Regions from separate parts of the Homo sapiens genome. Here region 2 is linked to region 1. A link means that fine-mapping ties the variant in region 1 to the expression of a gene that starts in the linked region. Tissue or cell type: whole blood. Region 1 holds a variant in brackets; the other region holds the start of a gene. All regions are shown on one strand. Distances are from middle to middle.

The links. PIP is the estimated chance that this variant, and not a neighbour inherited with it, causes the effect.
Region 2: it holds the start of ZNF212, and the variant in region 1 is fine-mapped to the expression of ZNF212 in whole blood (TOPMed, PIP above 0.99).

The regions. Positions count from the first base shown.
Region 1 is chr7:149,303,384-149,309,311 of GRCh38, reverse strand. No RefSeq gene overlaps it. Among named protein-coding and RNA genes, the nearest start is that of TRC-GCA1-1, 3.8 kb to the left of the region's middle. The variant C/T (reference allele first, on the strand shown) is at 3,016.
Region 2 is chr7:149,236,649-149,242,367 of GRCh38, reverse strand. It overlaps ZNF212 (zinc finger protein 212), which reads right to left and starts at 2,717. Exons shown (of 5, transcript NM_012256.4): 1 at 2,566-2,717. The coding sequence starts at 2,589. RefSeq lists an enhancer at 2,656-2,950.

The DNA.
Region 1 (5,928 bases):
GCGTTCTGAAGGGCTTACTTAAACAAGGCAGGTGGGAAGGAATTCCATGTGAAAATGGCAGCAAGAGCAATGGATTCAGGTGCAGCCTTGACAAGAAAGTTCAAGGATGGTCATTGCACAGTGTTGGGTGAGACAATGGGGGAGGATCTTAGAGAGGCATCGAGGCCCAAGGCCTACAGTACAGCAGGACCTCCTTGCAGAATTAATAGTCAACATGGGCCCTGAGTGTGACCCCACTGGAGAAAAGGACCCATAAGAACTGCTGATGTGTTGGGGCCACAGCTTAGGGCACTGGACTGTAGGTCAAGAAGTTGGGGTTCAAATCCAGGTGGCTTCTCCCTATTCTGGCTTTCGCACATGAATGCCTTCCCATATTTTTCATATTATAGCCCACTTAAGAGACGAACTCTGGTATTCAAGGGTGGTCTTCACTGTGCATGTTCGCCAAGAGGCAAGGTCCCTGCTTTGGATTGAATGGGTCACCTAAAAAGATACATTGAAACCCTAACCTCTGGTACCTGTGAACGGGACCTTATCTGGAAACAGGGTCTTTGCAGATATAATGAGCTCAAGATGAGGTCATTAGGGTGGGCCCTTATCCAATATCACTGATGTCCTTGTAAGAAGAGGAAAGGAGACAGACACAAACACAGAAAGAATATCATGGGAAGATGGAGGCAGAGACTGGAGCGAATGTCTGTAAGCCAAAAGCACCAAGGAGCAAGGCCACACCAGAAGCCGGGAGGAGGCAAGGAAGAGCTCTACCCAGCGTCTCCGAGGAAGCAGGCCTGACTGGCACCTCCACTTCTGACTTCTGGTCTCCAGAACTGTCCAAGAATAAACTGCTGTTGTTTCAAGCCACTCCATTTGTAATACCCTGTATGGCAGCCCTAGGGAATTAATACAGTCCCCACGCAGGGGGGCTACTTGGTCCCTGCATCCAGGGCAGGGACTGAAGAGAAAAGAGTGAAGCCGCCTGACTGGGCCTGATCACCTCCAGGCTGTGAAATTCCAGCTTCTCCAGCCTGGCTGGCCTGCGCAGATGTGGGGGTTCCTGGGATTGCTAGGGCTGCGGCCTCTCTGGCCACGAAATAAATAGCTTTCCCTGGAGACCTTGGCTCCCCAAGTAAGAGGGAGGGCTGAGTAAGGGAAGGGAAGGAAATAGCCCAGATCAGGAGAAAATAAGTGGACCTCACTGCATGTGGCGAAGTAGAGAACTGTTAGGAATGCTCCGTGAAGGCTGAGACGCACACACCACACAAAACCCCATTCCTTACCTATGAAGCCAGGAGGCTGGCCCAGACCCTCACAGGTCCTGTCCACCACCTCTCACCTGCAGGAAGCAAGTGAGGAGGAGGCCGCAGTGCTCTGGGAGCGGGGCGGAAAGGGCTGCTCCGCAGCGGGGTGGGAGTCCTTCGGTCCTCCTTACTGATGGTCCAGCTGGAGCCGTGAGTGTGGCCGCCTCCTTGAGTGCTAACTGAGACCTCTTTTCTCTTGGACCTGCCTAGGACTCTGTTTTGCCATTTGTTAAATGGGGATGTAAAAGCCCTACAGCGGGGCGCAGTGGTTCACACCAGTAATTCCAGCCTCCAGGCTGAGGCTGGAGGATTGCTTGAGCTCAGGAGTTTGAAACCAGCCTGGGCAACATGGCGAGACCCCAACCTCTACAAAAAAAATTTTTTTAGATTAACCGAGTGTGGTGGCATGTGCCTGTGGTCCCAGCTACTTGGGAGGCTGAGGAGGGAGGATTGCTTGAGCCTGGGAGGTTGGGGCTGCAGGGACCCATCATCACAGCACTGCATTCCAGCCTGGGCCACAGAACGAGACCCTACCTCAAAAAGAATAAAATAGAAGGTCCTACAATTGTGAGGATTAAATGAGAACCTTCATTTTTTTTTAACTTTTATTGTAGGTTTGGGGTACATGTGCATATTTGTTATATGGGTAAATTGCATATCGTGGGGGTTGGGTGCACAGACTATCTTGTCACCAAATAATAAGCATAGTACTCAATAGGTAGTTTTCTGATCCTCACCCTCTTCCCTCCCTCCACCCTCCAGTAGAACCTGGTGTCTGTTGTTCCCTTCTTTGTATCCATGTGAAGATGTTTAGCTCCCACTTCTAAGTGAGAACATCCAGTATTTGGTTTTCTGTTCCTTTGTTAGTTCACTTAGGATAATGGTCTTCAGCCCCATCTATGTTGCTGCAAAGGACATGATCTCATTCTTTTTTATGGCTGCATAGTATTCCAGGGTATACGTGTACCATATTTTCTTTATCCAGTCTAAATGAGAACCTCTACAGCAGGAATCAGCAAACCGTGGTCTGTCACGGGGCACAGCCCCACAGGCTACGAATGGATTTTACCCTTCTCAATGGCTTGGTTGGGGGGATGGGAAATGGGCCCTCATGGGACTTGGGGAAAAGTAAATGAAACAATTGTTGTTGTTTTTTAATGGCACAGAGTAAGTGTTCAATAAATATTTGCTGTTGCTTCAAAAAATATTTTGTGGCATGCAAAAATTATATGAAAATCAAATTTCAGCATCCATAAATAAAGTTTCCTTGGAACACAGCCACTCTGGTTCATTTCTTTGGTGTCTGTGGCTGCTTTCCTGTTAAAAAGGCAGAGCTGAGTGGTTGCCAACAGAGACTATTTTGCCTATAGAATAACAAACATGTACAATCTGGCCCTTTTCAGAACAAGAGTCTGACTCCAGGCTTACAGCCTTAGAGTGGTGCCTGACCCATAGCAAATGTTTCATAAACGATGGCTAGTGTTGTTATTGCAGCAGAGAGTAAGCACGGCTCACTGGAGAGCCTAGAGTTCCCTGCCTCCCATTCCAGTTTCCCTGACTTTCTGGCCTCATTCACAACAGCTGCAACCCCAGCTCCCTCTCCTCCTCCAGCCTCATTCTCCAAGACCTCCAGGTAAACTCCTTTAAGATGCTAAAAACTACAAAGTCTGATACCACACTAGGGATTCAGGGTGTATGGGGAACAGGCATGTTTCTG[C/T]GTTGTTGGTAGGAGTGTACACTGATACAACCTCTAAGGAGGCACCTGGCAAGAACTTTTGAAATGCTAAAAGCACATAACTTTGACCCAGGAATTACACTTCTAGAAACTAAGAGGTCTATAAACACAATTGTGAAATGATGTCTGCAAGGTTATTCTGTAGCCACATCATTTTAAATTATAAAACATTAGAAGCAACCTAATTGTCCCTCATCTGGGGACTGTTAAATAAATTACATACAGCCGTACAATTGAATGCCAGGCAACCCTTTACAAATGGGGATGCTCTTTATGTACTGATAGGGAAAGATTGCCAAGAAGAAACAGAAAAGCAAGCAAGGAAAATGTGTTTCCGCCATAGCCTGCTACTGTTTGTAGAGGGGAAGAAAAGGGGAGATGACATGTTTGCATTTATGTCATGAAAAAACTCTAGAAAGATCTACAAGAAACTGGGAACATCAATTGCTTGCGAGGAGGGGACATGGGTGGCTGGGGACAAGAGTGAGAGGAGATACCATTGTTTCTGTGCCACTGGAATTTTGAACCATGTAGATATATTATTGTGTCAATATTTTCTTACCTTTCTAAAAAGGAAGAGAATGTAACAAGAACAAAAACTCACCGGAGCCTAGGTGTCACCCCTTCTGTGATGGGGTCACACCTCATCTCCTTCTCTGCCCCCTTCCCATTGGGCCTCTATGTTCCCACACAAACATGTACCTTTTTTCCTAACAAAAAGTAAATATAAAATACTAAAACACCCACAATATTTTTTAAAAATACTAGGAGTGGCCGGACATGGTGGCTCATGCCTGTAATCCCAGCACTTTGCAAGGCCGAGGCAGGCGGATCACCTGAGGTCAGGAGTTCAAGACCAGCCTGGTCAACATGGTGAAACTCCGTCTCTACAAAAATACAAAAATTAGCCAGGCATAATGGCGGGTGCCTGTAATCCTAGCTACTCAGGAGGCTGAGGTGGGAGAATCACTTGAACCCAGGAGGCAGAGTTTGCAGTGAGCCAAGATGGCACCACTGCACTCCAGCCTGAGAGACAGAGTGAGACTTCGTCTCAAAAAAAAAAAAAAAAAACAGGAGTAATATGATTCCCAAACCCAGTTGTCTGTATATTATAATAAAATACAAATTAAAAAGGACACATACTTGCAATGTCCAGGAACCCTACGTTAAATTTCCCAAAACACTGACTCTAGCATGAGTGTAGTGATTTGTTTCTTACAGGCATCCCCGCTGGTCTAAGCCTTGGGGACCCTGCCTTACTTGCCTTGTAGCCCCATCACCTAACACATAGCACATGACTCGGGCTCAGCAAATATTTCTGGAAAGATAAAGGCCAATCCAAGCCCCTGGAGGGACGCCTTCTCCCGCCAGCAAAAAGAGTTAGTACCTCCTGGGGCCCACAGCGTTCAGCAAACCCCCAGGAGCATCCACACAGAGAAGAATCCTGTGGGGTGGTGCCGGCAGCCTCCACGCAGCCCGAAGGAAGCTGCAGCTGGTTCACCGTGTCCTATGAGCTGTTCACTCTCCAAAACATCAGCAATTGACCCACCATGAATCCACTCAGGCTGCCATAACAAGACGCCACAGACTGGATGGCTTCAACAACAGACATTTATTTTCTCACAGTCCTGGAGGCTGGAGGCCCAAGATCAAGGTGTCAGTGGTACTGGTTTCTCCTAAGGCCTCTCTGTGGTGTGCAGGTGGTCACGTTCTCACTGTGTCCTCACACGCCTTTCCTCTGTGTGTGCCCATCCTGGTGTCTTCCCCTTCTCATAAGGACGCCAGTCCTCTTACATTGGGGCCCCACCCTAACAGCTTCTTTTTAGCTTCATCACCTCTCTAAAGGCCTCATCTTTGAATATGGTTACATTATGAGGTACTGAGGTTTGGGACCTCAACATATAAATTTGTTGGGGGGTGGGGGTGGTGGCTCACACCTGTAATCCCAGCACTTTGAGAGGCCAAGGCGGGGCAGATCACTTGAGGTCAGATGTACGAGACCAGCCTGGCCAACACAGTGAAACCCTGTCTCTACTAAAAATGCAAAAATTAGCTGGGCGTGGTGGCACCCGCATGTGGCCTCAGCTACTGGAGAGGCTGAGGCAGGAAAATTGCTTCAGCCCAGGAGGCAGGGGTTGCAGTGAGTCGAGATTGTGCCATTGCACTCCAGCCTGGGCGTCAGAGCGAGCCTCCATGTCAAAAAAAAAAAAAGGGAGGGGGAAATAATTCAACCCATAATGCACACAAAATGAATCTGGTCATGCTGTTGCCTTCCAGAAACTTTTCTTGGTTACTGTTATGGACTGAATGTCTGTGTCCTCCAAAATTCATATGGTGAAGCCCTAATCCCCAAAGTGATATTGTTTGAAGGTAGGGCTTTTAGGAGGTAATTAGGTTTACATGAGGTCATGAGGGTGGGGCCCCAGGGTGGGATTAGTGCCCTTACATGAAGAGAGACCACATCTCCACATCTCTCTCTCTCTCTCTCCTTTTCTCTCCCACTCTCTCTCCCTCTCTCCCCAACATGTTGAGGATGTCTGCAAGCCAGAAGAAGAGCCCTAAGGAGAGCCAGGAGAGAATCTGCCCACATCTTGATCTTGGACTTCCAGCTTCCAGAACTGTGAGAAATAAATTTCTGTTGTTCAAGCTGCCTAGTCCATGGTATTTTGTTTTAGCAGCCCGGGCTGACCAATACCGTCAACACAGTACTTTTTGTTGTTGTTTTGTTTTTGTTTCTGCTTGTTTGTTATCTAGCACTAACATTTTAAGATGGCAAGGGTAAAATGGGATTTTCCACATTTTCAATCCTCTCCAACCCTTTTGGAAAGCAATTTTGGCAATATTGTATTTATTATATTGACTCAGTCATGCCACTTCTGAGAATCTATTTTAAAT
Region 2 (5,719 bases), 67 kb after region 1:
GTCTTTTTTTTTTTTGGTTGCTTTTAAGAATTCCCTCTGCCTTAGGCCGGGTGCGGTGGCTCATGCAGTGGTAATCCCAGCACTTTGGGAGGCCGAGGCAGGTGGATCACCTGAGGTCAGGAGTTCAGAGACCAGCCCAGCCAACACGGTGAAACCCCATCTCTACTAAAAATACAAAATTAGCCAGGCATGGTGACGCATGCCTGTAATCCCAGCTACTCCGGAGGCTGAGGCAGGAGAATCGCTTAGAACCTGGGAGGCAGAGGTTTCAGGCAGCCAAGATTGCTCCACTGCACTCCAGCCAGAGCAAGAGAGCGAGACTCTCTCAAAAAAAAAAAAAAAAAAAGAAAAGAAAAGAAAAAGAAGAAAAGAAAGAAAAGAAACGAAACTATGGCCAGGCACGGTGGCTCACGCCTGTAATCTCAGTGCCAAGGTTTAACAACTTACTTTGCAATCATCTGAAGGTCAGACCTTACTTTCAGTTCACCCTTACACAGAATGTTACCCTTTGAACTCTCTGCTTCATGGGATTGGGTTAGGGAGCTTCTTAGACTTTCCATCTTAGGCTCTGAGATGTGTGTTCCATTTTGCAGGTCCCTTGAATCATAAACACCAAAGATGAATGTTTGGCCAATGCCCTCAAAGTTGGCTTCAGAACTCTATCACTTTCGAGTTTCCTCTTTCGCTTAAGTTTTGGGGCTCCAAGTATTCTTTACTAAAATACATTTCAAATGCATTTATGTGCAGGGTTTTCCAGCATTTTCAGTTGTTTCATCAGGGCACCTACTTGAGCTTACTGTTAAATGACAGACACCTGAAATGTCTGAGAAGAGAAACAGGCTCAAGAACAATTTGAATAAGTTCTACAACGACAGATTCATGTTATTTAAGGCATAGTTTGGGATTGTGGTGGACTTTTTTTTTTTTTTTTTTTTTGAGACAGAGTCTTGCTCTGTCACCCAGGCTGGAGTGCAATAGCACGATCTCAGCTCACTGCAACCTCCACCTCCCAGGTTCAAGCGATTATTCTGCCTCAGCCTCCCGAGTAGCTGGGTCTACAGGCACCCGCCACCACGCCCGGCTAATTTTTGTATTTTTAGTAGAGACCGGGTTTCACCACATTGGCCAGACTAGTCTTGAACTCCTGACCTCGTGATCCGCCCTCCTCGGCCTCCTAAAGTGCTGGGATTACAGGCATGAGCCACTGCGCCTGGCCTGTGGTGGACCTTTAAGGCTTCTTCCTAACAAGGTCTACTGACGACATGTAGGTAATTGTGGAGTGACCTGGCAGGAAGAACTGTGGCAGAATCCTCTCGCCGGACTCTAACACTAACTAGATCTTGTGGAAAAGCCAAGTCTTTGACTGGCTCAGCCTAGCTTATAGGAGTCAGATGAGGTTAATATTGTAAACATTTGTGTCTTGTCTTCCCAATTCAACTGTTAACTTCCTTGAAAGCAAATACTGTGTTCTCTAAGTCTCCCAATCTCTCCGTTCTTAGTTCTTAACGCACTTTCTACAAGAATCAAATATAGCGCACCCTGCTCATGGTCAAATTTTCCCCACAGAATTTCCTTAGCCCTCCATTCTCACAAAGATCTAACATGATTCTCGAAGTGTTTCTAGACCAAGGAACACTTCATTAAAAGTCAATTCAATTCCAGCTGCCCCTTCCGTTGCAAACCCTCTGGTGTTGTTAAATTAACCACTACTTTGAAACAGTATGGGAACAGTATGAGAATGTCGGAGCTGGAAGGAAACTTAAAGCCTTGGAGATCATCTAGCAACTACTCCAACACTCTCGATTTACAGTTAAGAAAACGAAAGAGACCCAGAGAAGCGAACACAGTTGCCTAAAATCACCCAAATGGACAGCTGAAAGCTTCGTGACTCCACAAATAGGATTTTCCTCACACCAAACTCCGTATCTTGACATTCCCAGAATGGGGATGGTCGGTGGGCTGGGAGGGGGGTGTTGGGGGGGGGGTGAAGGAGAGAGTTTGGGCAGCTCTACAAACAAAATGCAGCAACTGCACTGTAGATAACATCCGTCCCCAAGGAGAAGCAGCCCAGGCTGACTTCAACCTGTGGCTGCAACCCCCAGACAGAAATCTGCAGCACTGGAAAAACCGACAACACATCGGACCGAAGAGGAGGTGGTCGCAGAGAGGCAAGTCCTGGGGTCTCCCGGGCAGCGGGAGAGCTCACTCGTAGCGACGGAGACCGTTTCCAATCTGGAAACACTCCAACCTGGGAACGGGCTCTTTTGGCACGAAAGAGAAAATGTGTGGGCAGGGTCACAAATCCACCAACCTAAAGCAAGCGTCAGAGAAGTTTCTGGGCAAGGGCGCACGGCGCCGAGGCTCCGACCCCGCTGCAGAAGGAAGCGGAGGGAAAAAAGGGCAGAGCACTGGGGTCGCGAAGAGGAGGGTCCGCGTTCACCCGCGCCAACGGCAGCCCCGGGAAACCAAGACCCCGGCGGCGTCCAAACCGCGAAGCCCCGCCCCCGGCAGGGGACTCCGCCATCCCCAACGCGCCCTCGAGCCAGCGCGCCGGTGCCTCTTTACCCGAGCAGGCGCCGACTCCGCCATGGCTCCAGTCGCCCCTCAACACCCAGACCCCGCCTCGGAGCCCCCGTGCTGCGTTCCTGTCCGCTCGGCGCCCCAGAGCCTGTTGGAAGCCGCCGCCGCCGCCGCCGTGTTGATGCCAGGTGCATTCTGGGAGCAGCGACCTCCCCGGCACAAGACCGGCTCCAGCCGCTCTTCCTCACTGTGCAGGCTTCCCATTGTGCCCCCGTGCGGCGGGAGGGAGAACGCTGCTTGGCACTCCCGGCCAGAGTGCGGGCACCAGGAGGGCTCAGTCACTCAAAAGTCAAGACCAGGTTCCGCGTTTCAGGCAAAGCCACGGGATCCTGCTGTCTTCCGTATGCCCAGCACTCTGCTAAATGCTTTGAGGGATTCAAAAATGTGTACAACTCAGACTTTTTGCTGAGGAAAGAACATGTAATGTTGTTGGGGAAAAGAAATATGGTTCCAAAAGGCAAGTGATTTTATTCCAAAAGTTCACCTGTTATTTGGCTTTTTAGAAACTGGGAACAGTTTCCATATCAACAGTGTGGAGCGTGGGGTCAGGCCCAGGCCAGCCCTCTGTAGCCTGTTAATTATGGTAATCATGTGCCTTGGAAAGTCCAAGACAACCCTGATTTCAAATATTTCCAGTCCTCATGCTACATGTAAGACGATGTGTCTGGAATTTTTGTTGGAAAGCACGGCCACATGACCATTTAATCGCCATGTACTTAATCCCCAATACCAGCAACACTACGGCAACCATAGCTGCCTAATTTATACCATTGTCTCTCTGGAGACAAGCAATGAACTTCCACTTCACAGGATAGGCGTGAAGTGTTTCCTCTGAGAACGAAACTTTTTTTTTTTGAGATGGAGTTTCGCTCTTGTTGCCCAGGCTGGAGTGCAATGGCGCAATCTCGGCTCACTGCAACCTCCACCTCCCGGGCTCAAGCGATTCTTCTGCCTCAGCCTCCCTAGTAGCTGGGATTACAGGCATGTGCCACCACGCCTGGCTAATTTTGTATTTTTAGTAGAGACGGGGTTTCCCCATGTTGGTCAGGCTGGTCTCAAACTCCCGACCTCAGGTGATCCGCCCACCTCAGCCTCCCAAAGCGCCGGGATTACAGGTGTGAGCCACCCCACCCGGCGGAGAACGAAACTTTTAAGATCATGACTGGCTCCTTCCTCACATGCAGGGCTCAGTTCAGATTCTACATCCTCAGAGAGATATCCCCAGTCCCCCCTTTCTACAGCCCCACACCATCCTCCATCTCAATACTCAATCTCGTTACCCTGCTGGAAATTTTTCATACCATTTATCACCATCTGAAGTAATCTCTCTTTTTCACTCATTTACATATTAATTATCTGTATCTCTTCCACTGAAATGTCTGTCTACTGTATCCTCCATTTGTTGTACACAGAAGTGTTCATATTTGTAAATGATTGAATGGTGAATCAGAGTGTAAGGATATGAAATGTCATCTCAAACAGAGGCATTATTTCCAGGGCAACTAGATCAACGGGCACGTCACTGAATCATTAATAAATCTAGAGAAAGAATGGGCCAGGCTGAAGAAACCGGTCAGTCAGGGAGATCCTGTCCAGAGGGTCTGACCTAATCTCTCAGACCAACAAACTCTTGGTGTCAGATACAGAAAAAAAAAAAAATGTGTCATGGGTGAGGTGGCTCATGCCTGTAATCCTAGCACTTTGGGAGGGCAAGGCAGGAGGATCACTGGAGTTTGAGACCAACCTGAGCAAATAGGCAGACCCTGTCTCTACAAAATTAAAATTAAAATTAAAATGAGCCAGGAGTAGTGGTGCACACCTGTAGTCTCAGCTACTCAAGAGGTTGAGGTGGAAGAATCATTTGAACCCAGTAGTTCAAGGCTGCAGTGAATCACGATCGCACCACTGCACTCCAGCGTAGGCAACAGACCAAGATCTTGTCTTTAAAAATAAAATAAAAATGTTATCCTCCACAGGCACAATATCAGGACATAGGATGCTGAGGTCATTAAACAGTTCGGTCGTAGAACTCATTCCCTCTATTCTATTTCTATACTCACAAGGCAACCTTCTGACGTTGCATGTTGCCAGGTAGCTTCTGGGAGGCAACATGCAGGTGAAGCTGATGCACATGTATACCTCAGTCTCTTGAAAATGAGCATGTTTCAGCATCCCAGACTCTGAGCCTGGAAGTCTGGAAAAAGGTTCAGATCAAATTTCCAGCCTGCAAAGGAGGCAGCACCAGGCACCAGGGTTGCAATCACGTGGGCTGGTGGAGATGGTGTGGCGCCTGCAGTCCCCCGGGCTGATGAAGACAGTGTGGCACAGTGATTTGCTAAGTGGGGCTGGGGAGTGAGACCGTCTGGGTCCCTAGCCCAGCACTGCCAGTATATTAGGTTTCTCTAGACAGACTAATAGGATATATATATAATGTTATATAAAGGGGAGTTTATTAAGTATTAACTCACATGCTCACAAGGCTCCACAATAGGCTATCTGGAAGCTGAGGAGCAAGGAGAGCCAGTCTGCGTCCCAAAACTGAAGAACCTAGAGTCTGATGTTCGTTGATGTTCGAGGGTGGGAAGGGTCCAGCATGGGAGAAAGAAGTAGGCTGGGAGGCTAGGCCAGTCTAGTCTTTTCACATTTTTCTGCCTACTTTATATTCTAGCTGTGCTGGCAGCTGATTAGATTGTGCCCACCAGATTGAGGGTGGGTCTGCCTTTCCCAGCCTACTGACTCAAATGTTAATCTCCTTTGGCAACACCCTCACAGACACACCCAGGATCAATACTTTACATCCTTCAATGCGATCAAGTTGATTCAGTATTCACCATCACAGCCACTTACTAGATGTGAAACTTGGTCAGGTCTTTAACTTCTTAGTACTTGTTTCCTCATGATTATTGGTGAATAGATAACAGTACTTAGCTCATAGAGTTGTGTGAATTAAATGAGTGAATTCAAGTCAAGTGCTTAGAACAGTACCTGGCACAGAGGAAGAGCTCAAGAAGTACTCATGATCATTATTGTTGTTTAGTCCCAGATCCTTCATTTACTAAGTGCTGTGGCTCATGCTCACTCTGCCCTAGTGTCCTTGTCTTCCACTGAGAATGTGAACACCTCATCCTAAGGTTGCTGA